7 linked regions of the Homo sapiens genome follow. The protein of the gene in region 3 purifies or fractionates together with the protein of the main gene of each other region. This does not show direct contact. Each region holds a gene or a part of one and is shown on either strand. Other genes may lie near its edges. The genes, in order: LARP1, RBMX, RC3H1, CNOT10, CNOT9, CNOT2 and IGF2BP1.

Region 1 (3,500 bases), on a different chromosome or scaffold from region 3:
AGCCTCAGAACACAGAGCAGGTGAAGGATTTAGCACTTCCTTAGCTCAGACAAGGCAAGGGAGAGAAGCAAAGCACTGGAATGCAATGAAGTAGACCCAAGACTCTGAGCAGCCCGACAGGAATGCCTCACCTTGGCATCCAGTGTCCGTCCTTCTTTCACCACTGGGTAAAACCGTGATGTCTGGCTTGAGTCTTTGAGCTGTGGTGTCCGGGGAGTGCGAGGGGTCCTGGTGTTGCGGTAGTTTGGTGACTCTGGGACAGTGGTTGGTAGAGAGCGGGCGATGGTGGAGGGCTCAGGAGCACCAAACAACTTGTTGGCCAGGGCATCCGTAGGAACTGCAGAGGCAGAGAGAGGAGTCAGGAAGCAGGGAAAGGCCTGTGGCATCCACCCCAGGATAGCCCCCAGTCCAAGGGCCCTAGATCCTCTCACCCATGTCAGGATCTCAGGTGTCTGCTTCTCACCTTGCTGGAACCGAGGTGGCCCAGGAGGAACTTCCTGGTTGGGATCCACAGGGGGCTCAGGGGTCAGTGTGTCAAACTGCTCCCGGCTGATCATATTGACCTTTTTGAAGTTCTCGACTTCTTGCTGCAGAGGTCATGAGATGAGTGGGGAAAGATGTAAGTAAGCAGGCTGCTCTAGCCTGTTTAAGGAATCAAGACTGGCAGGAAGTTGGAGAGGGCAGCTCCCACGTCGACATACGTGGAATTCTGGTCCCCAGGCTCTCAGCTGCCCAGTCACCATTCCTCACCCCAGTTACCTTGGCACAAGTGTGCTAGCCCAGAAGAAGACAGTGCTTGCCCTGCCCTCCCTGTAGTAAGACTGAGATCAGGCTGACAGTAGCTCCTCAGGAACTCACTACACACTCCCCCCTGAAAGCTCCAGTGTTTCCCCATCTCTCTTTCTGCTACTGCCTTATCACACAGTGGCTGGGCAACTCTCCTTCCTCCTTACTTCCAGGAAACACACTGCTACTTATTACAAAGGCTCACCCTAGGACAACCTACCACCAAACATACCCACTCTAAAATCCCACAACAGAGATGTTTTGACTATTTCCAGGCAGCAGCAATTTTTCAAAAGACTTATCTTTTCTCCATTTTCCATACTCAACACAAGCTTCTTAAAAGGCTTCTAAATTTTTAGATGCCTAAATATTTAAGACTAGAAATAACAATCTAACCCTTTTTCTGTTCCCCACAAAAGTGTCTAGCCAACTGTCAGAATATTAACTATGGATCCGCAGATAGGATAATAATCACCACCGCCTCACCTGAAGAGTTTGCAGTGTTTACACATCACCCCTCACTCCTAATGCCCAAGCTAGATGTCAGTCATCATCCCCTTCCCATATATAAAAATCCTGAGACTCTGAATTATAAGGACCTGCCTAAAATTGCACAGCTAATCAGGCTTCCTCTTCTCCGTACAATACAGGCACACCAGGCTCCACACTCACTGCTATGTCCAAGCCTCACCTTGATCTGGGAATACTCAGGTTCAAACTTTTCAGCCCACAGGTCCTGCTCATAGTAGAAGAGGCCATCATTAATGACCTTGGCCAGTTCGGCGCTCATCTTGGCACGCGAGGTGTGGTTGCCTGTGCGGTCCCCCCCTGGGTGCCGGCGCATGTAATGTGGTGTCTGGGTGACAATGAGGATCTTGTTGACATCCCTGTCATCAATCTCATAGTCAGATTCCTCATCAGACCAGGCAGTGAAGGTGTTCTTCCGCCCATCCATCTGCTCCATCTCCTCGTCAAACAGAAAATCCAGTTCCTCTTGCTCATCCTGATCCTTGGACATCAGCTGCTGGGAAGGCAGCTGCTGAGGCAGAGAGGTCAGGTGGGAAAATCTGGACTCCTCTGACTTCTAAAATAGGACAGACGAAGGGGAAAAGGAATCACCAGAGATCCTTGGCCCAGATTCTGTAGCTATACCATGAGAGGGAAGCTCCAGCCTCTCAACATAAGACTGTTCAACTATGACCCTGGTAACACCAGCAGGTCACAAGCGTCATCCTGGGAGTCAGCTTTATGACTATGAGAAAGGATGTTTCATAGAAGTCCAGGTTCCTCCACTCACAGCTCATATCACAGTCATGCACAAACAACTGATGATGACTTCTCTATAGGCAGGAACTGTGCTCTCATTTACCTTTATATCCTACATAGCACCTAGCTTAGGAGTGGACACACAGAAGTTCAGCAGGTTGATTCATCCACTTATCCATCTATTCAACATCTCCCAATAAACTGGAAGCTCCATGATCCACAGCTGCCTTGCTTTCCATTATATACTCAGTACCTAGACGGGGATCTGGTAATACCAGATGTTCAATTATATAATAAATGAGGGAGTACCCATTAGTCCTAAGCTCTGTATGAAAAACCTAAAAGCAGAATAAGACAAGGTCCCTGTTACTTAGGGAGCTCAATGGGAGAAAGTCAACCAAACAGCCAACTGCATTGTGGTATGGTAAAGGCTATAAGCAGGTTTGTGGATGCACACAGTTAAAGGAGCTTAGTCAACTGTGACTAAGAATGGTTACGGAAGGCCTCCTTCAAGAAGTGACTACCACAGGATGAACATAAGTAAGCCAGATGAAGATAGGGACAGACTAGGCAGAAAGAATACCATTGTTCCAAAGGCAAGAGAAAACACGGTGCCTTCAGCAAAGAAAAACTATTTGTTTTGATAGACTGAATATGAGACGCTGAGAGAGAAGCATTTGTCTAAACCCACAGTATTTATTCAAAAGTAGATTCCCTGCTGTGCCAAGAGCACATAAACTCTAAACCTATCTTTTTTTAAGGTTTAAGATAGACCAGGTCAGAGTAGGGGCTCTAATTCTGGAATGGGAGCTAAGTCTGACCCCTGTTTCAAACAAAACTTTGTAGGCCTGGACTTTGTAAAACCCTCATCTACTTACTACCTTTCTCCTCATGTCTCTGGCTGGATCTCCAACACTTTTTGAGGGCTGAAGCCACAACTGTGGGGAATTCTGTGTATGAACAGGCAGGCAAGAGAAAGGAGATGAGAGGTAATCACTGTGGGAAAATAGATAAGGGAGTATAGAATTCCATAGACCCAAAGTTCAAGGTCAATTCTGCAGTCTCCTCACAAGCCCCAGGCCAGAGGTCTCCAAAGTGGGTGACAGTGAGCAGGTATGTGGAGAAAAATTCAGCACTTAAAAAGGAAGTAGTAATTTTAGTTAGAGATTGCAATACTTCTTTAACAGTGAACTTCATCTGTTTATATATATAAACTATTTCTAGAATATTCTAATGTCTCCTTCCTTTCATCTGCAGATGGAGAAACTGAAGCCTTGAGGTATGAACAGGCTTCCCAAGGTCACCTTGCCATTAGTGCAGCAGACTTGTGTAGACTAACTCCATATTTGGGCCATGCATCTGCTCCCTCTCCCTTCCTTCTTCTGAGGACCTAAGGGGCTTACATACATGATAGTGGGGACATACTCAGGGAAAAGACACCAAAAACG
Region 2 (2,382 bases), on a different chromosome or scaffold from region 3:
TCTAGTATCACGAGAACTTGGGTAATCTCTGCTTGAATAGCTACAAAGCAAAAGTTTTGGTTTATGCTTTTGATAAGCTTTCCTTCAACCTTAATTATTAATTTAAAAAGCTGCACTTTTCTATTACCTGTCTTTAGTAGAATACCCATCATCTCTTGGGGACAAATAAACATCTCTACGAGAGGGCAGCGGTTCCCTTCGAGGTGGACCTCCATAACTATCTCTTCCACGTGATACAGGAGCTTAAGGAAAAATATCATTTTTTTAAACATAGCCAGAGAAAAAAGTTAAAACGTGAACTTACATTCAGGCTATGAAAAATAATGAGACTGACTTCAAAGATGACATTACGGAGGCTAGATCACCTAATTTTATTTTCTACAATTTCCCATTCATATTTTAAATTTTTTTCAGTGCTAATTCCATTTATCTAATCACCTAGAACACATGACTAAAAGTTTTGTTTTTTTTTTTTGAGATGGGAGTCTCGCTCTGTCACCCAGGCTGGAGTGCAGTCGCGCAATCTTGGCTCACTGCAACCTCTGCCTTCTGGGTTCAAGTGATTCTCCTGCCTCAGCCTCCCGAGTAGCTGGGATTACAGGTGCCCACCACCACGCCCAGCTAACTTTTGTATCTTTAGTAGAGACAGGGTTTCACCACGTTGGCCAGACTGGCCTCGAACTCCGGGCCTCATGATCTGCCCACCTCAGCCTCCCAAAGTGTCAAGATTACAGGCGTGAGCCACCGCACCCAGACTCCATGAATAAAGTTTTTTTTTTTTGTTTTTTTTTTTTTTTTGGAGACAGAATCTCACTCTGTTGCCACGCTGGAGGACAGTGGCATGATCTCGGTTCCCTGCAACCTCTGCCTCCCAGGTTCAAACAATTCTCCTGCCTCGGCCTCCCAAGTAGCGGGGATTACAGGAACCCGCCCTACACTCAGCTAATTTTTGTATTTTTTAGTAGAGACGGGGTTTCACCACATTGGCCAGGATGGTCTTGATCTCTTGACACCGTGATCCGTCTGCCGCGGCCTCCCAAAGTGCTAGGATTACGGGCGTGAGCCACCACGCCTGGCCAATTAAAATTTTAAGCATCATTCACCTCTCAATTCTTTGTGTTACGGTAGTAGCATAAATCATCATACATGGAACATTTACCTCTTCCTCCCATTCCACTGCTACTGCGAACTGGTCCTGAAGGTGCAGATCTCTTAGGAGGAGGACCCCCACTTCTTGGTGGTGGTCCTCTTTTTACTGGGAGTGGTCCCCTGGAAGAACTCATGTTAAAATTCATGGAATATCCACCGTCATCTGCATCAAAAATAGAAAAGAAAAATATTACTACTCACAAGAATCAAGAAAGATATAAAAGTTTTTTTTTTTTTTTGAGAGTCTCACTGTCGCCCAGGCTGGAGTGCAGTGGCTTCATCTCGGCTCACTGCAACCTCTGCCTCCTGGGTTCAAGCAATTCTCCTGCCTCAGCCTCCCGAGTAGCTGGGATTACAGGTGTGCGCCACCACACCCAGCTAATTTTTGGTGGTTTTTTTTAAGTAGAGACAGGATTTCACCATGCTGGCCAGGCTGGTCTCGAACTCCTGACCTTGTGATCCGCCTGCCTCAGCCTCCCAAAGTGCTGGGATTGCAGGTGTGAGCCACCAGGCTCGGCCACTATAAAAGTTTTCTTTGCTTCATCAAGAATATGACCATTATTGGGCCGGGCACAATGGCTCACGCCTGTAATCCCAGCACTTTGGGAGGCCAAGGCGGGCGGATCACCTGAGGTCAGGAGTTCAAGACCAGTCTAACACGGTAAAATCCTGTCTCTACTAAAAATACAAAAATCCAGGTGTGGTGGTGCATGCCCGTAATCCCAGCTACTTGGGAGGCTGAGGCAGGACAATCGCCTGAACCTGGAAGGCAGAGGTTGTGGTGAGCCAAGATCGTGCCACTGCACTTCAGCCTGGGCAACAAGTGCTAAACTCTACCCCCCCCCCCCCAAAAAAAAACCATTATTGATTTGGGTAGTCTAGTTTCACTTGTACTTGATGGAGCATGCACTGCAGTCATAGAAACTGGGGAAATAAGAACTGAAGGTAGTCTTAAAAAACTTTTTTTTTTTTTTTTTGAGAGGGAGTCTCGCTGTTCCCCCAGGCTGGAGTACAGTGGCACGATCTCAACTCACTGCAACCTCTGCCTCCCAAGTTCAAGTGATTCTTCTGCCTCAGCCTCCGTAGTAGCTGGGATTACAGGCACCTGCCACCACGCCCAGCTAACTTTAAAAAATAAAAATGATTTCATTTTCATGTCCAACACCCTGGCCTATCAATTTTTAAATGCCTTTCCTACAGAGTGAACTACTTGGACAAGAAGTAACACTGTCC
Region 3 (3,500 bases):
TTTAAAGACATTATTTTTATTTTTGTATTTGTTGACACTATCTACTTCAAGATAAAAGTTCGGCCGGGTGCAGTGGCTCATGTCTGTAATCCCAGCACTCTGGAAGGCCGTGGCAGGTAGATCACCTGAGATCAGGAGTTCAAGACCAGCCTGGCTAACGTGGTGAAATCCCATCTCTACTGAAAATACAAAATTTGGCCGGGCATGGTGGCATGAGTCTGTGATCCCAGCTACTTGGGAGGCTGAGACACAAGAATTGCTTGAACCCAGGAGGCAGAGGTTGTAGTGAGCCGAGATCATGCCATTGCACTCCAGCCTGGGTGACAGAGCAAGACTCCGTCTCAAAAAAAAAGTTATTTTTATAATTTAAATGTATTAATTGAGTACATTAGCTTTCCACTAAATGTTAGTCTAAAAAATTAATGAGGCATATATAAAAACACAGAAACATGTATTTACAAAAAGTTGACATTTTCCTGAAAAAAATTACAGAAAACCAGAAATTTTACTGCAGAGTTCTAAATATTCTGACATAATCCTTTTCCTTATCATTTTTTAAGTTTCCTTTTTTTTTTTTTTTTTTTTGAGGTGGGGTTTCACTCTATTGCCCAGGCTGGTCTGGAACTCCTGGCTTCATGAGATCCTCCTGCCTTGGCCTCCTAAAGTGCTAGGATTACAGGCTTGAGCCACTGTACTCAACTTAAGTTGTTCTTATAACTAAATTATAATTATGTATATTAATAAAATTTTCCTTAAGGAGGGGAGATTAATAACAAAATTTTAAATTTTTTTTGTACTTAGATCTCCTATAACCCCATTAGAAATATTTACTAAGAACATAAAGTGACTTTTGTTTCTCATAAATTTTAAGATTTCAATTCAATTAGATAAAGTACCATTTTGAATTTAAGATAACAATATATTTCTAAAGCCCCAAATGGAAATGTCAATCTTAGCAGTAACTCTAAAGTCCAAGTTTATTACCCTTTATTCTAGAAAGAAAAAAAAAAACTAATTTTGTCTCCCTCAGTCAGCCAATTAAAACAATCCAAAAAAGCTTACTAAACAACTGCCTTTGTAACACTGTTCATGTTTTTAGAGGTGATCAGGTATAGGGCCAAGATCAAGGTTTCTAACACTTATTCAACAAGGGATTAAAAGCAGAGTGCCACGCAAATCAAAACTCTAAATATTCTCAAAGATTAGCTGAATAAAATAGTCATAAAGTTAGATTCACAGGGATCAAAGAGCTTCAAATTCTAAAAATCGTTTCCCAGTGTAACTTCAAATAAATCCTTTGTGAATATTCCTAGTTTCTTCTATACATTAAGAAAACCTAAAAGGCAAACAAGTTCTAGATAGGAGACCAAGTATTAGTTGTTCACATTTGTATAGAACATTAAATTTTAGTTCTTATAACCCAATGAAGAAATACAAATGAGTCTAAGAGTTTGAGCAAAACCCTCTGGGGTGATCAAAACAAAACTGCAAACTTCTATGAGTCTCAACTTTTCTTCCATAAAGAGTCCCTGGCAGCATGTCTACTGTACTTAGAGAAGCATGCAAAGAATTAGGTGGTTTTTTATTCCTAACAATCACATCCCAAAGTTTTTTCTGCAATTTCAATTGTACAGAGTACTCTTCCTCGATGTTGGCTCAAATTAGAGACAGAAAGCAGAATGGCGTTTGCTAGGGATTAGGGAAGAGGGGAATACAGAGTAACTGCTTAATGGGTACAGTGTTTCCTTTTGGGGTAATGAACACATTCTGGAATTAGAGCTGGTGGTTGAACAACATTGTGAATGTATAAAGTGCCACCTAAACTGTTTACTTTAAAATGGTTAATGTTATGTGACTTAACCTCAATAAAAAAAATTATGTTAATCTGTAGATAAAACTGACCCCTTTAGAACTCTTTTCTTGCTCAAAAAAAAAAAAAAAAAAAAAAAAAAACTGCTACCATGTTCAAATGCTATTTAGATCTTGGAAATTTTTTAGATAAAATGCACTTATAAGTTAAATTATTACCACATGTGCACAGTAATAATCAGTGAAGGTATACCAGTGTCAGTTTAAAACATTGTTATGCCTGTAATCTCAGCACTTTGGGAGGCAGAAGTGGGAGGATCACCTTGCTCCCAGGAGTTTGAGACCACCCTGGGCAACACAGCAAAATGCTATCTCTATAAAAATAATAAAAATTAAAAAAAGTAGCCAGGTAAGGCGGGAATAACACTTAAACCAAGGAGTTTGAGGCTGAAGTGAGCTATGATAATGCCACTGCACTCCAGCCTGGGTGACAGACCATGAGTGACTCTGTCATTCATTCATAATATATACATACAGCATTGCTAAAATGCTTGATAACTGTCAAAAGAATATTGCTCTGACATACATCTGCAAATAAGTAAGGTGACTTTAAATTTGAGGAAAATTCTTTCCCCAAGCCTCAATCAGGAAAACAATATAAACTAATAAGAAGTATCTAATAAACAAAAAGTAAACAAGAATATTATATAAGTAAACAGGCACAATCCTGACCAAAAATGGACAGAAATAAATATGCTAAAGTTAAGTGTCTGGGGGATGTAGGGCAACATTACTTCAGATTGGTAAATGTCACACTTCAAAAATAGAAGGAATCTACCTTAAGAAACTCTGTAGTAAGAAAACCTCCTTTGTATAAATGCCTGACAAAATTAATCTTTTATCATAACCTCTAAAGCTAGTCCAAATCCAGCCTAGATTCCAGAATTACACAAAAGAAAAAATCTTGGAGACGGTTCTGGGAAAAGGCTGACCAAAATCTGTGACTGTTTTGATACAGGCCAATCTGAGAATTTTAATCCCTCTGAACCCAATCCTGCAGAATACCTGAACCCTGAGCACAGACGGGGCCAAAGCTAAACCAGGTCAGAATACCCTGCCAAGGAACATCCTGATCTGAGGTGTTCACCAAACAGGGATCATTTATCAGTTTATTCTTCACTTTGTTGGATGCTGACCATTTTCAAGATATATGCAAGAGTGGACTGATTAGACCCATCAGAATCCATTTCAAGCCCTAAGATCTGGAGATGAAAAATACTGCAGAATTCTAAATTATCTATGGCTTAAAGAAAAAAAATTATAAATTAAGAACTTCAAATATTAGCTGACCCAACTTTAACATCATTGAATATCTTTAATTATTTAAAAAAATTTATAAAGTATTTCAAAGGCACAATTTAGTAATTGCCTATGTAACAAATTAACCATGAAAACAATTACAGCAGTATGATAAATCTGTCCTATGTAAACAGTATGAGTTTTTATATTTTATAGCATTCAGATATGCTAAAAACAAAAATTTAAGTGTTTCTTTTGTGATTCACATGAACAAATACTTTCTTGGTCTTACAAGTAGATATCTGACAGGATACAAATAATGATAATAGGGTAAGTTCACAGGCAAAAAAAGGAATCTGTCAACACAGAAGATGCTTCAAAGTTTAACTGTG
Region 4 (3,500 bases), on a different chromosome or scaffold from region 3:
CAACTCTTTTCAGAAAATGAGATTTTATATATCTAAGCCTAGCTTTCTAGGCAAGCTGTATAGGCAAGATCGTCTTTATACCATTTTGTGGATTTTTTTTTTTTGAGACGGAGTTTTGCTCTTGTTGCCCAGGCTGGAGTGCAATTGCACGATCTAGGCTCACTGCAACCTCCGCCTCCTGGGTTCAAGCGATTCTTCTGCCTCAGCCTCCCAAGTAGCTGGGATTACAGGCTCCTGCCACCACGCCCAGCTAATTTCTTGTATTTTTAGTATAGACGGGGTTTCATCATGTTGTCCAGGCTAGTCTTGAACTCCTCACCTCAGATGATCCACCCGCCTTGGCCTCCCAAAGTGCTGGGATTACAGATGTGAGCCACTGTGCCCGGCCCATTTTGTGGATAGTAAAATCTCTGTTTTCCATCCAAGTGGCTAGTAACACATTTTATTTACTGTTTTTTTCAATGACCACAGTCTGAAGCTTTTTTTAAAATACAAGAATTCAAGGCAACATCTTTATGATACTTAATGGCATTTTGCTTACTGGCTGTTCAGAATGGTTAGTGGTGGGCAGGCAACCTTGGAAACATCTACTCGGAGCCCTTTCCAACTCTTCACATCACTGTTCTTCCCTCCCAGGCAGGGTGGGCCTCCCAATTAACAAAGGTCCAGCCATTGGATTAACCTAAAAACCAAGGGACCAAAACAAAACCCCCTTCAGACCCCAAACCAGGCCTGACCCCATCTGTCTCTCCCAGCGTGGCAGCAGCCATGGCCACCTGCTGTACGAGAACCTCAGCTGGACTGTACACACTGTAACTTTAGATCAAAAGCTCTGTTTGCTGCAGTGACTGAGGTCTGGGGGCACTTTGAGAGGGGCTGCTCAACACCCTAGCCTTGTTACTGAGAAGAGTGAAACATTTTAACTCTTACTGGTTTAACTCATACACTCAATGCCTAGATAATATCAAACATGTTACCCTGGACAGCCTGTCACTTAACTTTTCTGATCTGGGATCAGAAATGCTGACCAGATGCCACTAAGTTGACTAAATAGAATTTGTAGTTATTTTTCACATGGTAAAGCATCATCACTTCTAGGCACAACAAGGCTGCTCACATAAGCAGGAACCTATGTGAAAGCCACATAGGCTTTTTTTTTTTTTTTTTTGAGACAGAGTTTCGCTCTTGTTGCCCAGGCTGTAGTGCAATGGCGCGATCTCGGCTCACCACAACCTCCACCTCCTGCGTTCAAGCAATTATCCTGCCTCAGCCTCCCGAGTATCTGGGGTTACAGGCATGTGCTACCACGCCCAGCTACTTTTTGCATTTTTAGTAGAGATAGGATTTCTCCATGTTGGTAAGGCTGGTCTCGAACTCCTGACCTCAGGTGATCTGCCTGCCTCGGCCTCCCAAAGTGTTGGGATTACAGGTGTGAGCCACTGCGCCCGGCTGAAAGCCACCCTATCTCCTGAGAAGAGGTTTAATATCAACTTTAGTTGCTGTGGCAAGCATGTGGGGATGTGGGCCTTCTCATCTGCTGCTGGAGAATGTACCATTTGATACAAACTTTCTATATCAGAAGTCTTAAAATCCTGCATATCCTCTGACCATGCAATTCCCTTTTTAGGAAGGTGTCTCCTAACTGCAAAGGTCTACAAGCAAGGGCAAGATTGTAGTATGTCTGCTTATGTGCAGTCTTATTCCCATGGCTTAGCTCAGAAGTAAGTGCTCAACAGATATCTGCTGGATGAATGTCCTTTTGAGGAACTATTTCTAATTTTGTGAGATTCCTCTGGGGCTGCCAATGGTGGTACCCAGTCCCCTACTACAGGTATGGCTCAATGCCCATGATTGGTCCAGGGATTGGCAGGTGACCTACTAAAGAGATCCAATCAAAATCTTCCTTGAAGCTTCATGATGCACCATTTCAGTGGTAGAATTCAGAGGTTTATTTTAGTTATATATTGCCAGTAGCTTTCTTTAGTGTGTATGGAGTTTCTCTAGTATTGGCTTTCTGAAAGGTGGATTTATAATTCACTTTTTTTTTTTTTTTTTGAGACAGAGTCCCGCTCTGTTGCCCGGGCTGGAGTGCAGTGGCGCGATCTTGGCTCACTGCAAGCTCCACCTCCCGGGTTCATGCCATTCTCCTGCCTCAGCCGCCCGAGTAGCTGGGACTACAGGCACATGCCACCACGCCTGGCTAATTTTTTTGTATTTTTAGTAGAGACAGGGTTTCACCGTGTTAGCCAGGATGGTCTTGATCTCCTGACCTCATGATCCGCCCACCTCGGCCTCCCAAAGTGCTGGGATTACAGGCATGAGCCACCGTGCCTGGCCTATAATTCACATTTTGAAAAAAGATTTACACAATTCAAAATTTAAAAGCACCTGGGCACGGTGGCTCACACCTGTAATCCCAGCACTTTGGGAGGCTGAGGCGGGTGGATCACCTGAGGCCAGGAGTTCGAGACCAGCCTCAACATGGAGAAACCCCGTCTCTATTAAAAATACAAAATTAGCCGGGCGTGGTGGTACATGCCTGTAATCCCAGCTACTTGGGAGGCTGACGCAGGAGAAGTGTTTGAACCCGGGAGGCGGAGGTTGCAGTGAGCCGAGATTGCGCCATTGCACTCCAGTCTGGGCAACAAGAGCGAAACTCCGTCTCAAAAAAAAAAAAAAAAAAATTAAAAGCATAACAGTATACAGTGAAAAGTCTCCCATTCTACTGCTCCAGCCATGTAGTATTCGTCCTGCCACCCCAACAACTAATGTTTGCAGTTTCTTGGTGTGTCCTTTCAGAGATCTTTTATGCATGTATACAGGGTTATACAGAAACTGTTTCACACCTTGCTGTTTTCATTTAGTATGTCTTGGACATCTTTCCATTTTAGTACCTAGAGTTTATAGCTGCATTGTCTTCAACTGTACAGATGCACTATTATTTATATAAGTGATCTTTTAGACAGTTTTCCATCTTTTGGAATTTTAATAATTAAAACTGTCAACTTACTTCTTTTGTCTTTTTTTTTTGGGGGGACAGGGTCTCACTCCAGTTGCCCAGGCTGGAGTGCAGTGGCATGATCTTGGCTGACTACAGCCTCAACCTCCCAGGCTCAGGTAATCCTCCTACCTCTGTCTCCTAAGTATCTGGGACTACAGGAATGCACCACCATGCCTGGCTAATTTTTGGTATTTTTAGTAGAGACAGGGTCTCATTATGTTGCCCAGGCTGGTCTCAAACCCCTGGACTCAAGTGATCTGCCTGTCTCAGCCTCCCAGAGTGTGGGATTACAGATGTGAGCCACTGTGCCCGGCCCCAAGTTGCTTTTTATTCTGCTGATTTGAAATTTAAACATCTTTTTTTTTTTTTGAGACGGAGTCTCGCTCTGTTGCCCAGGCTGGAGTACAGTGGCACAATCTTGGCTCACTGCAACCTCCGCCTCCCGGATTCAAGCGATTCTCCTGCTTCAGCCTCCCGAGTAGCTGGGACTACAGGTGCG
Region 5 (3,500 bases), on a different chromosome or scaffold from region 3:
TCAGTTGAGGGATACTCAAATTTTTATAATTTTGCTAGCATCCTGCTTTAAGTTACAGTGATGAGATCACTGGCCAGAAAGTGTTAAGTCAACCACGGTGACTCATAAAGAAGTTTGAATTTGGTTAGGTAGTAACATGGTAAGGACATGAATCAATGGGTGGGGATATGTATAAACAGCAGTGAATATATGCACTATCTGTCAAAAAGTAATGATTTACTCAATACAATTCCATTTACATTTTTTTTCTTTTTTTTTGAGACAGGGTCTCACTCTGTCATCCAGGCAGAGTGCAGTGGCATGATCATGGCTCACTGCAGCCTCCACCTCCTGGGCTCAATTGATCCTCCTACTTCAGCTTCCCAAGTAGCTGGGATTACAGGAGTGTACCACCAAGCCTGGCTAATTTTTGTATTTTTTGTAGAAATGGTGTTTCGCCATGTTGCCCAGGTTGGTCTCAAACTCCTGGGCTCAAGCAATCCTCCTAACTCAGTCTGCCAAACTGCTGGGATTACAAGCATGACCCACTGCACCTGGCTACAATTTTCCATTTACATTATTTGTAAAACTTTTACATAGAAAAACGTTCCCATAACAAAGATCAGTTTCTTGGCTAAATGCAATAGAGATGGAATGTGAATTTACTTAAGAGTTGAAAAGTTAATCTAATTGTTAGGAATTTGGGGCAATACTTTAATGGATGATCATGCCACTACCTAGGTATTTTGGTATTGTTATTGTACCATATCAGTTAATTAGCCACCAGTGACCATTCTGGTTTGAACTGAACTTCAGTTATCTATTCTTTAATGTACAAGTGTACCCACCTTTAATACTACAGCTGTTATACCTTCAACATTTCCTTTCCAGGCCAGGCATGGTGGCTCATGCCTGTAATCTCAACATTTTGGGAGGCCAAGGTGGGTGGATCACGAGGTCAGGAGTTCAAGATCAGCCTGACCAACATGGTGAAACTCCGTATCTACTAAAAATTAAAAAAAAAAAAGCCAGGCATGGTGATGCAGGCCTATAATCCCAGCTACTCAGGAGGCTGAGGCAGGAGAACCACTTCAACCCGGGAGGCAGAGGTTGCAGTGAGCCGGGATTGCACCATTGCACTCTAGTCTGGGCGACAGAGCGAGATTCCGTCTCAAAAAAAAAAAAAAAAGAAAAACAAACAAAAAAACCCAAAAACCCATTTCTTTTCCATAGAATATATTGTACCTTGTGGTCCTTATACTCTACTTTCCACCTTCCTCCCCCTGTCATGTAGATTTATCTTACAGTACTCCTAAAGCGGTGTTCGTCAAAGCGTAGTTCTTAGATCACTTGCATCACAATCACCTGGGGGAGGTGAAAGTGCTTATTAAAATATAGATTATAGGGCCCACCTCAGACTGACTAAATTGAATCTCTTGGGTAAGGATCCAAGAATCTGCATTTTAACAAATACCTCAGACCTTTCTAAAACAGATTCTTACAAATGCAGTTTTTTAAAGAATCATCCTCCTAAAGTCTTCAAATCATTTGGGCAAAGGTAAAGAAATATACAAGTGTAATGAAAAGAACTGAACTGCCAATCATGGACATGAACCCACCTGTAAAAGTGCTGCAATAGTACCAAATGAATGCCACAGCATGGGTGCAAGGTCAGGAACAGATTCTCGCTTCTTACTTAGCTCCAGCAAAGCATTTTCCCTAGTCTCAGGACTGGACAGCTCATTGATCCACTGATAGATCTTTTCTCTATCCACTTGTGCCAGTGTAGTAGGCACAGGCTTCAGATGAAGACAAGAAAGTAAATATCAGTTTATTAGAGTCAAACCAAGTCTTACCCTGCAACAGAGTTTTAGAGGAAATATATTTTTCATGAATACCAGGGGAGCGTTTCTAAATACATACATTTGATGTCAACTATTCAATCTCTTTGGTAGTTACTGATGAAAATCTAAAATGCACACATACCCTTTGATAATTCCATGTTTAGGAATTTATCCTGTAGGTATAATTGGGCTGTGCTAAAGACATACCAGGATGTTTACTGTTGCACTGTTTTAAAAGCAGAAAAGTGGCCGGGCGCGGTGGCACACCCCTGTAATCCCAGCGCTGTGGGAGGCCATGTTGGGTGGGTCACTTGAGGTCAGGAGTTTGAGACCAGCCTGGCCAACATGGCGAAACCCCGTCTCTACTAAAAATACAAAATTTAGCTGGGTGTGGTGATGGGCGCCTGTAATCCCAGCTACTCAGGAGGCTGAGACAGGAGAATTGCTTGAACTTGGGAGGTGGAGGTTGCAGTGACCCGAGATAGCGCCACTGCACTCCAGCCTGGGCGACAGAGCAAAAAAAAAAAAAAAAAGCCAGGTGTGGTGGTGCATGCCTGTAGTCCCAGCTACTCAGGAGGCTGAGGCACTAGAATCGCTTGAGCATGGGAGGTGGAAGTTATAGTGAGCTGAGATTGCACCATTGCACTCCAGCTTGGGCGACAGAGTGAGACTCTGTCTCAATAAACAAACAAACAAATAAATAAATAAATAAATAAATGCAGAAAACTGGGCCAGGCGTGGTGGCTCATGCCTGTAATCCCAGCACTTTGGGAGGCCAAGGCAGGTGGATCATGAAGTCAGGAGATTGAGACCATCCTGGCTAACACGGTGAAACTGGTGTCTCTACTAAAAATACAAAAAATTAGCTGGGCGTGGTGGCAGGCGCCTGTAGTCCCAGCTACTCTGGAGGCTGAGGCAGGAGAATGGTGTGAACCCAGGAGGCGGAGGTTGCAGTGAGCCGAGATCGCGCCACTGCACTCCAGCCTGGGTGACAGTGTGAGACTCCGTCTCAAAAACAAAAATGCAGAAAACAAACAAGTATCTCTCACTAAGAGACTGGTTAAATATTGGTGCAGCTTTATAATGTGATACTATGTAGTCCTTTAAAAAAAGAAGCAGCTCTCTATATACTGTATATTGATACTAAGTAAAAACAATAAAAGGGTTACAGAAGAGCATATAAAATGTTTCCATTAATATACACACATATAAAAATAAAAAATACATATACATTCTTACACATTTACATATAACATTTCTAGAAGGACACATAAAGAACTGTTAACTGTAGTTACCTCTAAGGTTGGGGATTTACAGGGAGACTTACTTTTCATTGTTTACACTAAAACCTTTTGCATAAACTTTTTTTAAAAAACCATATGCATATAATAGTTTTTGAGAGGAAAAAAAATTATGCCTTCCCAATACTGGTCCCTCCCCAGTGATTCTGACATCCCCCCTCAACTGAGCAGAAAACCTGTAATTTGGAAAAGCTCTCCCTCTTAATGATTCTTCAGTATATTCTCTAACTACATCCCTTTGAGAACCATTCATTACTTACTCATGTAGGAAATACATACTTAATAGGGCATGCTTTCATTATTATGCTAAAGAATCACAATATTCCCCCCAAATTTGAATATTTTATAATTCTCTATAGTCATCAAATATGTTTGT
Region 6 (3,500 bases), on a different chromosome or scaffold from region 3:
TGAAATTCTTTTTAGGTATATAGATTATGAAGCCATGGTTAAGATACGGTTTTAATCTAAATTAAATTCACTTTAATAATGTAAAAATAAATTTCTTGATGGAGAAATAGTTCCATTTAAAGATAGCCATCATCACTTAAAGATGTTTTCAGCATAGTCAAGATCCACTATAATACAAAAGTGATTAAAATACTTTGAACATACAGCTCCACTGCAGCTAAAAGTTGTAATACGTCTCCTCCATTCATGTAATAGAGATAGAAGAGAAGGTCTTCACCATATCGGCCAAGTTTTATTGCAGCCAGCTGAAAAAGAAAAATAACTTATTCTGAAATATAAAACAAATCTGCAAATCCTAATATATAGTTGCTACTACTAAAGAAAAAATGGAGAGATAAACAGAAACTCCCCACTTTGTAGTAGATAACTGTTATTACATGATTACACAGATAGGTAGTTAAGATTCTAAAAGGGAATTTCCTCATTTAAATGACTGAAGTCATTTAAACAATTATTTCTGATACATCTAATTGATATGCTGACTGGAAGAAAAGCTCAATAAAGACTTCCAAGCAAGATCCACTAAAAGGATTTAATACCCAATGGGGAAAAGAACCTAACAATAGCATTGTGCTCAGAGATCTAGGACTTGTATTCAAGTCCTGGTTTTATTACTCATTAATATGACTGTGTCCTAGTTATTTAAAATCTCTTAGCTTTACTTGTCAAATGTGGACAATGACACCTATGAGGGTTACTAAGAAAGTAAATAAAATGAGTGAAGGTATATGAAAGCACCTTGTAGAGTGCCAAATATATAGACGGCTTATAAAAAATGTTAAACTGAATCTATATCTGACAGTGAATGATTCACAAGTCAGTTGTATGCTTTCAGCAAATCACAGATGATGAATACAAAAATCATAAAGAAATGGCTTTTCAGTTTGTTTAAATAGATGTCTGAAAGATGATTGCTTTACATTTCTCTCCCCAAGGTAGAAACATAACTGCTTACCAAACTGTAAAACATAGGTTCAATAGTCTCAAATTTTCACATTTAAATAAACCTTAAAAGTGTCCCAAAACAACATTTTTATCTCGTTATTTGATCCTATATCGAAATACTTATTTGGTTATTACACATTCTCTGAATGTAATTTTTCTCTCCATTCATGTTATCCCTATTCAGGCAGCAGCCCCAATGTGACAAATTCTCCTAAATTAGTATTTCTCAAATTGGTAATAAGAAAAGGTTCTGGAACACTTTGGTAATTGGAGCGAAAGAGCTCTACAGTGGTGGTGGGAGCAAATCACACAATCCGCAAATAGAAAATAGGAGACCTCTCCATCTTGTATTTCTTGCCTTTTATCTACTCAAGTATTAGAAGACATTGAGAAAGGTATCCCTTTACTTGCCTGTCCACATCAACATCCACTTGACCACAGAACTGTAAGGCACACTCAGAATGCTGTTGTATATATACACATACACATAGATATTTATACACAAATATATAACAAAAATATATTTTTTCACTAAATTGTAGTTTCCCAAGGCTAAAATTTAGGTACCATTGTGAATATTTTTTGGTAATAGAAACAAACTCTCAGTTCTTCTAAAGCAAAAAGTGCCACCATTTTCTTTCTTAGATTGAAAAAAGAGAGATTAAGCTGTAATCTGTTGTTAATAACTACTTTAGAATTAGAATTTTAGGTGATTTAAAAAAATGGAAATGAAAAAATACAGAGAAAAGTCAAAGGTCATAAATAGTTTTTAAAGATACAGACCATCTCATTAAAAACACTGTATCTGTAATACTTGTAACGAAAATCTTTTTACTGGTAAGGTCATAAAATAAGATTATCAGAAGGATATTTATCAAATGTTCCAATCTAGTTTATTCTCATCAACTGCGGTTATGGTTGTAACCTGTTGTTAAATGTAAGAATTTTTATTTTTTACCAGTCCTAACATTTACCATTTAACAAGTTAACATGGACATATGAAAGCATATCCCTGAGACCATTACTAATTATTTCAAAAATAGTATGCTGCCTGAACTGAAAAACATGTGAAAAATAGATAAATTCATGCTGACTGAGTAGAATAATAAACTACACTCACCTTATCCCTAATGTGAATGTTCGTTAAGTACTCAGATGGAACATGGAAGTCTGGATAATAAAATGAAAAAAGCCTTATTAACTGATTCTCAATTGTAAATTTCTTTTTAAAAGGTCTAAACACAAATAGATTCTCCTACCTATGTCTTGAGGTCGACAAGGTGAAGATGCCCAGGGTGACGCAAATTTGGGGTAGAGATTTCTGAATAAGGAGGAAAAGAAAACATTTTGAAATCCAGAAAAAGAGATTTCTAATTTTATTTCAGGAAAAACAAAGACTCCAACTGTAAAATGACCATCTTTACTTCTAATTCCCTTACTTGGGTTTACTGACTTATACAGAAGCAAATGAAGACTGTGTGTGTTTGTGTGTGTGTCTGTAAAATATGATAGGACTCCTTCCCTCAGTATTCTTGCAATACAGTATAAATAACACAACATATCACAATATACAAAACATGATTAAAAATTTTCTACTTTTACTTGATTTCAACTCAAGATGCTTTAAATTCTTCAATACCATGCTCCCAATATAAATTAAATTTTAAATAAATTTTAAATAAATTTCCCATTTATTTGTGTGGCAAGAAGAAAACTGAGTAACTATTTGCAAAAGTTTAAATTCATCAAATATTTACTGAGTGCCTATTATATGCCTGGCACTGTTCTAGGAGCTTACGACACATCAGTGAGCAAAACAAGATCACTGACAACATGAAACTTACTTTCTGGTTGAGGATGGTGGATTGGAGGGGGACAGACAAAATCAATTAACAGAATAAATAAATAAACAATGGCCCATGTTAGAGGGGAACTGGGAGGGGAGACTGGATGCATAATTATTAAATAGGGTGGTCAGTTAGGTTTCATTAAGGTGGTCAGATCTGAAGATTTGAAGGCTATAAGGGACATAGTCATATTAATTATCTGGCAGAAGACTCTTCTAGTCTGAGGGAACTCCTAGAGCAACTAAGGCAGGGACATGACTGACATGCCTGAGATATAACAAGGTGGCCAGTGAAGCTGGAATACAGTGAACAAAGGGAAAAGCTGTTGAGGTGGGGTTAGGGGACAAACAATAATCATGTAAGACCTTGCAGGCCTGTGAAGATTTGGGGTTTCTGGTCAAGCGCGGTGGCTCACACCTATAATTCCAATACTCTGGAAGGCCAAGGTGGGCAGACCACTTGAAAAGTGAGGAGTTAAGAGACCAGCCTGGCCAACATGGTGAAATCCCGTCTCTACTAAAAATACAAAAATTAGCTGGGCATGGTGGCACATGCCTGCAATCCCAGCTACTCAGGAGAATCGCTTGGACCTGGGAGGTGGAGGTTGTAATGACCCGAGATTGCATCACTGCACTCCAGCCTGGGCGA
Region 7 (4,018 bases), on a different chromosome or scaffold from region 3:
TCCAGCTTGGGACATGAGAGCAAACTCTACACTGTCAACATGTTTAAAGTCTGATTTGAGAAAGTAGAAAGACTCTGCCCTTATACTTCCCAGCCAGAGTTCAAGGAAAGGTTTCAGAGTTCAATGCAAGATTTGAAATCCACCATGAATTCTCGGTAAGTATGATGGAGGTACCCCATTTTGCTGAAGAGAGAGGATAGAGGGTATTGGAACACACACGAACACACACACACACACACACACACACACACACACACACACCATTCATCCACGGAGTTCTAGACCCTCCAAAGAGCCCCAGCTCACAGCCTCAACACAAAGCTCTCACCCCAGATGGTCCCCTGGTAACAATGGGCTGAAGGAGTGGGGGTAGGGGGGCTCGAAAAGGATAGTACAGCCAAGGCATATTCTTTGGAAAATCCAGCTGGGGAGAGGGATGATGTGAGATATGAGGGATTGGGGGTGGGGGGTCCATGGAAAATAAAAAGTCTTTGCCTGTTGTAGAAATATAAATAAAGTACAAGCATAAGGGGATTCTTTGGGGGCCGGGAAACTCATTCCACATCGCTTCGGGAGAAGGGCAATCCACTTAAGAATTATGGTGTGGAAAGAGTGGGAAAAACAGAAAATGAGGCCTGCTACGAAGTTGCAGAAATCGCCATGAGTCTGAACTCTTCAAAGATTTTAAGGTTCCCCCACAAAAAACGGCCCCACGAGTTGAACAAACAAACTCCACAAGGTTTCTCCCCTATTGATTTTCTTTCCCCTTTAATTCTGCAAGTAACATCTTTTAGCCTACCCCAGCCCCAACTTATTTATTTTTTTTTTACAAGCTGTAAACCACCCATTACAAGATCTTGGCCAATCTTCCCTCCCTGCCCCCAACATCCGGAGTTGGGGGTGGGAAAGACCAGTAATGGGTTTCTTCCACTGGAGACGCTATGGACCCCTGAACACAGCTTCACAGCACACCCCCGCGGCCCCCCCACCCCCCCCGAAAAGAGCTCTTTCCTACCTTTGTTTTTTGGGCACCGAATGTTCAATCTCTAAGCGTTTTCCTTGTAATTCTACTTTCCCTAAAGATTAAAAAAAAAAAATTACCATGAGAGCTTGAACAGGGGTTGGGGGTGGGAAGAGGAAGGGGAAAAGACACTAGGATAATTCAGGAGTTACTGGGATTCGAGATCTTCCTAGGAATCCAGGCAGTGGCTTCCGCATCCAGATGGGAAAAAGGTTGCTCTAGGAATGGTGGAGTCTGTAAATTCGTTATTATTCATTTTTTAATTTTTGCTTTATTAAATCACTGAGGCTTGTTGAGTGGATCGCTCTGGAATCCCGATTTGGGAAAGGTGCGAGGCCATTTGTGTGGGTGCGCTGCCTACACAGCTCCCAGATGTGGGAAGGAGCCAGGAAAGAAAGGGCTCCCCGTTCCTCAGAAAGTGGGGCGCGGGGCGGGAGGCAGTGTGCAGAATGAAACTTTATTTTTCTCTGTTGGCCAGGAAGACGGGCTTTGGGCCACGGAGCGGTCACCTGTCGGGGCTGGTTTGGGAAGGGGTGGACCTGGGGGAGCGGAGCGGGGCCTGGCGGGGAGGGTCCCTCACTGCCACCGCGCGCGCCTCTCGGCCCAGCCTCGGCGTCTCGGGAAGCAGCATGGCGACCCGGCGCCGCCGCCGCCGCGCCACCCCGCTCACGCCCCACTTTCAAATCAAAATGGCTCAAGCCCCAGGCCCTGGGCGGGAGGCAAGACCCCCTTCCTTGCAAGTCCTGCTGGAGGGCTGCATTCCCCACGCGAAGCGGACAGATCGCAGGCGGTCCGGGTACCCCTTCCACGCCTGGAAAGGCCTAAGACTGAGGAACGGGAGCCGGGGTTTTCCAGCTGGGGGGGCGTCCACCGGCGGATAGGGAGGGGCTGGGCGTGGAAATAACGCCCAGCCAGGGGTCATCCCCGTGTCCCTAAATTCAACCCCCCACTACTGCCAGTGGGGGCTCCCGCCCCGTCGGTGGGGAGGAAGGATGGGGGAAGCCAGAGCTCCTTATCTCAGGCTGGGAGAAAGGGATGAGGAAATCCCGAATGTTTCTGCGCGGGGGTGGGAGGCGCAGAGCGAGGGAGGGGGCATCGAAGGGGGTAGGTCGAGGGTGGGTACGGAGGCCAAACCCCGCAGGCCCGGGAAGAGAGGAGTTGGCGGGAGAGGAACCGGAAGGTGCGGGTCTCCGTTGTTCGGGGCTCTCGTTGTGGCTTTTCCGGGAGGTGGCTGTGTTCTTACCGGAGAAAGTTTCGATGGCCTTCATCGCCCAGTGCTCGTCCGGGCAGTCCACGAAGGCGTAGCCGGATTTGACCAAGAACTGGCCGCTGTAGGAGATCTTGTGCTCCGCAAACACTTTCTCCAAGTCCGCGGGGGTCACGCTCTCGTTGAGGTTGCCGATGTAAAGCTTGTTCATGGTGGCGGTCTCGGGGCAGGACGCGGTCCCGGGCAAGGCCGAACGAGCGGGCGCGGGCGGCGAGCCTCCTAGGCCAAGAGGCGGAGAGGCCGGCGGCAGGAGCCGCAAACTTTCTTTGCACCCCACCCCAGAAGTTGTCCCGAGCCCAGGGCGGGGAAGGCGGCCTGAGGGCGCGCAGAGGTCGCGGGAGAGTTCGGGGAGAGCCCAGGAGAAGTGCCCGCGGCGCGCAGGGAGACGGACGACACGGCGCAGCTTCTTCCCTTCGGTCCGAAACCCCTCCGAGAGGGCTGGTGTGTCACGTTTCTCCGCGGCCGCCCTGGCGCCGCCTCTAAATAAAATCGACTTGAAAAAAAATGGAGCGGAAAAAAAAAAAAAAAAAAAAAGGAGAAGCCACGTGGTGACAGCCCCCACCCACCCTGCAGGGAAAGACCCCCGACGCCACAGGGCCCCTCGGCCCTCCGGCCAAACCCGATAATCTCCCGCCTGAGGGTGGGGAACTCAACTCACCCCCGGGGTAAACTGGGGCGGTGCGGCAGCGTCCCTGAAGCTCTACAGGCCCCTTCCCCCTTTGCAAGAACCTGGCCCCTAGGGAAGCGCCCCGCCCCCACCCATCCCCCTACCCCAGCCCAAACTGGGGGAGGATGGTCCAGCCCAGATCTCACATGTCTTAAAGGGTAAAATGTACGGTTATTTTTCATTCGTTTTGGGGGGCGGGGTTGCTCACCCCTCCCCGGTTAACTGCTAGCGACTGACAGGCGGGGGACGGCCGAGACAGACAAAGAGAAGCCGAAGACTCTGGGGTCTTCAGGAGAGGGTCGCACGAGCTGGTGATTTAAAAAGAAAGGAACCTTTTCCCTAGATGTTTAAATGGGGGGGGTCTCCGCCTTCCCCACGCCAGCCCCACGAAACTCCCCCGCCTCCGGGGATGCAGGACCGGGGGACCCTGCGAGCGCGGGACTGGAAAGCTGGGAACGGGGTATCCCAGTGGAGAACGAGGAAGCCGCAGGAAATAATGTTTTGAGATCCCCACGGGAGAAAGGGTGGTTCGCACCCGGGGTCCGGCTGTTAAATGATAACGTTTCGGGGTCCTGAGGGGAACACGCGGAACTGGCCGGAGATGACTCCAGGAGACAGGAACGGTGGGAGACAAGGAAGAGGAGTGATAGCTAGGGCTAACCGGAGCGAACTGAAGGGGGAGGTCTTAGGGAGGGAGTGACCGGGTGGAGATTTGAATGGTCCCCTTTTCCCTCCCAGAGTCGGGGACAGACAGGTGGAGTTTCCAGAGCCTGCACCACCCGGGACACTGCTGGCAGCTCTCTAGGCCCTAGGTTCGGGTCTCGGAACTTTGTTTGGGGTGCAGGATTCCGATCCTGGCGGGAAGGCGGGAGAGGGACGGAGGGCGGGGGGCTAAGCGGGAAGCCCCGCCCACGTCCCCAGGTCAGACCCGCGGGGGGAGGGGGTAATTTCCGCTCCGCGCACGGGGAAGCGAGGGGCGGGAGCTTAGGGGAGGGGGCGGCGGCCACTCCCCTCCTCCTCCCGCCGTTCCTGGGGAGGGGGAAGCGGATCCGCCTGGGTCCCT

Evidence for each region.
Region 1: the proteins of RC3H1 (region 3) and LARP1 purify together in Homo sapiens (affinity purification with mass spectrometry, with the first as the bait; 3 studies listed by BioGRID). This does not show direct contact.
Region 2: the proteins of RC3H1 (region 3) and RBMX purify together in Homo sapiens (affinity purification with mass spectrometry, with the first as the bait; 2 studies listed by BioGRID). This does not show direct contact.
Region 4: the proteins of RC3H1 (region 3) and CNOT10 purify together in Homo sapiens (affinity purification with mass spectrometry, with the first as the bait; 3 studies listed by BioGRID). This does not show direct contact.
Region 5: the proteins of RC3H1 (region 3) and CNOT9 purify together in Homo sapiens (affinity purification with mass spectrometry, with the first as the bait; 4 studies listed by BioGRID). This does not show direct contact.
Region 6: the proteins of RC3H1 (region 3) and CNOT2 purify together in Homo sapiens (affinity purification with mass spectrometry, with the first as the bait; 3 studies listed by BioGRID). This does not show direct contact.
Region 7: the proteins of RC3H1 (region 3) and IGF2BP1 purify together in Homo sapiens (affinity purification with mass spectrometry, with the first as the bait; 2 studies listed by BioGRID). This does not show direct contact.

Annotation. Positions count from the first base shown.
Region 1 is NC_000005.10:154,800,377-154,803,876, reverse strand, and holds part of LARP1 (la-related protein 1), read right to left. Parts: intron 1,871-3,500; coding exon 1,478-1,870; intron 588-1,477; coding exon 464-587; intron 338-463; coding exon 132-337; intron 1-131. UniProt on the Homo sapiens protein: RNA-binding protein that regulates the translation of specific target mRNA species downstream of the mTORC1 complex, in function of growth signals and nutrient availability.
Region 2 is NC_000023.11:136,875,344-136,877,725, forward strand, and holds part of RBMX (RNA-binding motif protein, X chromosome), read right to left. Parts: intron 1,313-2,382; coding exon 1,160-1,312; intron 243-1,159; coding exon 128-242; intron 41-127; coding exon 1-40.
Region 3 is NC_000001.11:174,015,858-174,019,357, forward strand, and holds part of RC3H1 (roquin-1), read right to left. Parts: intron 1-3,500. UniProt on the Homo sapiens protein: Post-transcriptional repressor of mRNAs containing a conserved stem loop motif, called constitutive decay element (CDE), which is often located in the 3'-UTR, as in HMGXB3, ICOS, IER3, NFKBID, NFKBIZ, PPP1R10, TNF, TNFRSF4 and in many more mRNAs.
Region 4 is NC_000003.12:32,765,188-32,768,687, reverse strand, and holds part of CNOT10 (CCR4-NOT transcription complex subunit 10), read right to left. Parts: intron 683-3,500; exon of another isoform or gene 542-682; intron 1-541. UniProt on the Homo sapiens protein: Component of the CCR4-NOT complex which is one of the major cellular mRNA deadenylases and is linked to various cellular processes including bulk mRNA degradation, miRNA-mediated repression, translational repression during translational initiation and general transcription regulation.
Region 5 is NC_000002.12:218,578,839-218,582,338, reverse strand, and holds part of CNOT9 (CCR4-NOT transcription complex subunit 9), read right to left. Parts: intron 1,779-3,500; coding exon 1,599-1,778; intron 1,330-1,598; exon of another isoform or gene 1,270-1,329; coding exon of another isoform or gene 1,225-1,269; intron 1-1,224. UniProt on the Homo sapiens protein: Component of the CCR4-NOT complex which is one of the major cellular mRNA deadenylases and is linked to various cellular processes including bulk mRNA degradation, miRNA-mediated repression, translational repression during translational initiation and general transcription regulation.
Region 6 is NC_000012.12:70,340,933-70,344,432, reverse strand, and holds part of CNOT2 (CCR4-NOT transcription complex subunit 2), read right to left. Parts: intron 2,327-3,500; coding exon 2,265-2,326; intron 2,176-2,264; coding exon 2,126-2,175; intron 323-2,125; coding exon of another isoform or gene 306-322; coding exon 205-305; intron 1-204. UniProt on the Homo sapiens protein: Component of the CCR4-NOT complex which is one of the major cellular mRNA deadenylases and is linked to various cellular processes including bulk mRNA degradation, miRNA-mediated repression, translational repression during translational initiation and general transcription regulation.
Region 7 is NC_000017.11:48,996,167-49,000,184, reverse strand, and holds the start of IGF2BP1 (insulin-like growth factor 2 mRNA-binding protein 1), read right to left. Parts: upstream 2,801-4,018; 5' UTR 2,440-2,800; coding exon 2,265-2,439; intron 1,077-2,264; coding exon 1,016-1,076; intron 917-1,015; exon of another isoform or gene 1-916. UniProt on the Homo sapiens protein: RNA-binding factor that recruits target transcripts to cytoplasmic protein-RNA complexes (mRNPs). This transcript 'caging' into mRNPs allows mRNA transport and transient storage.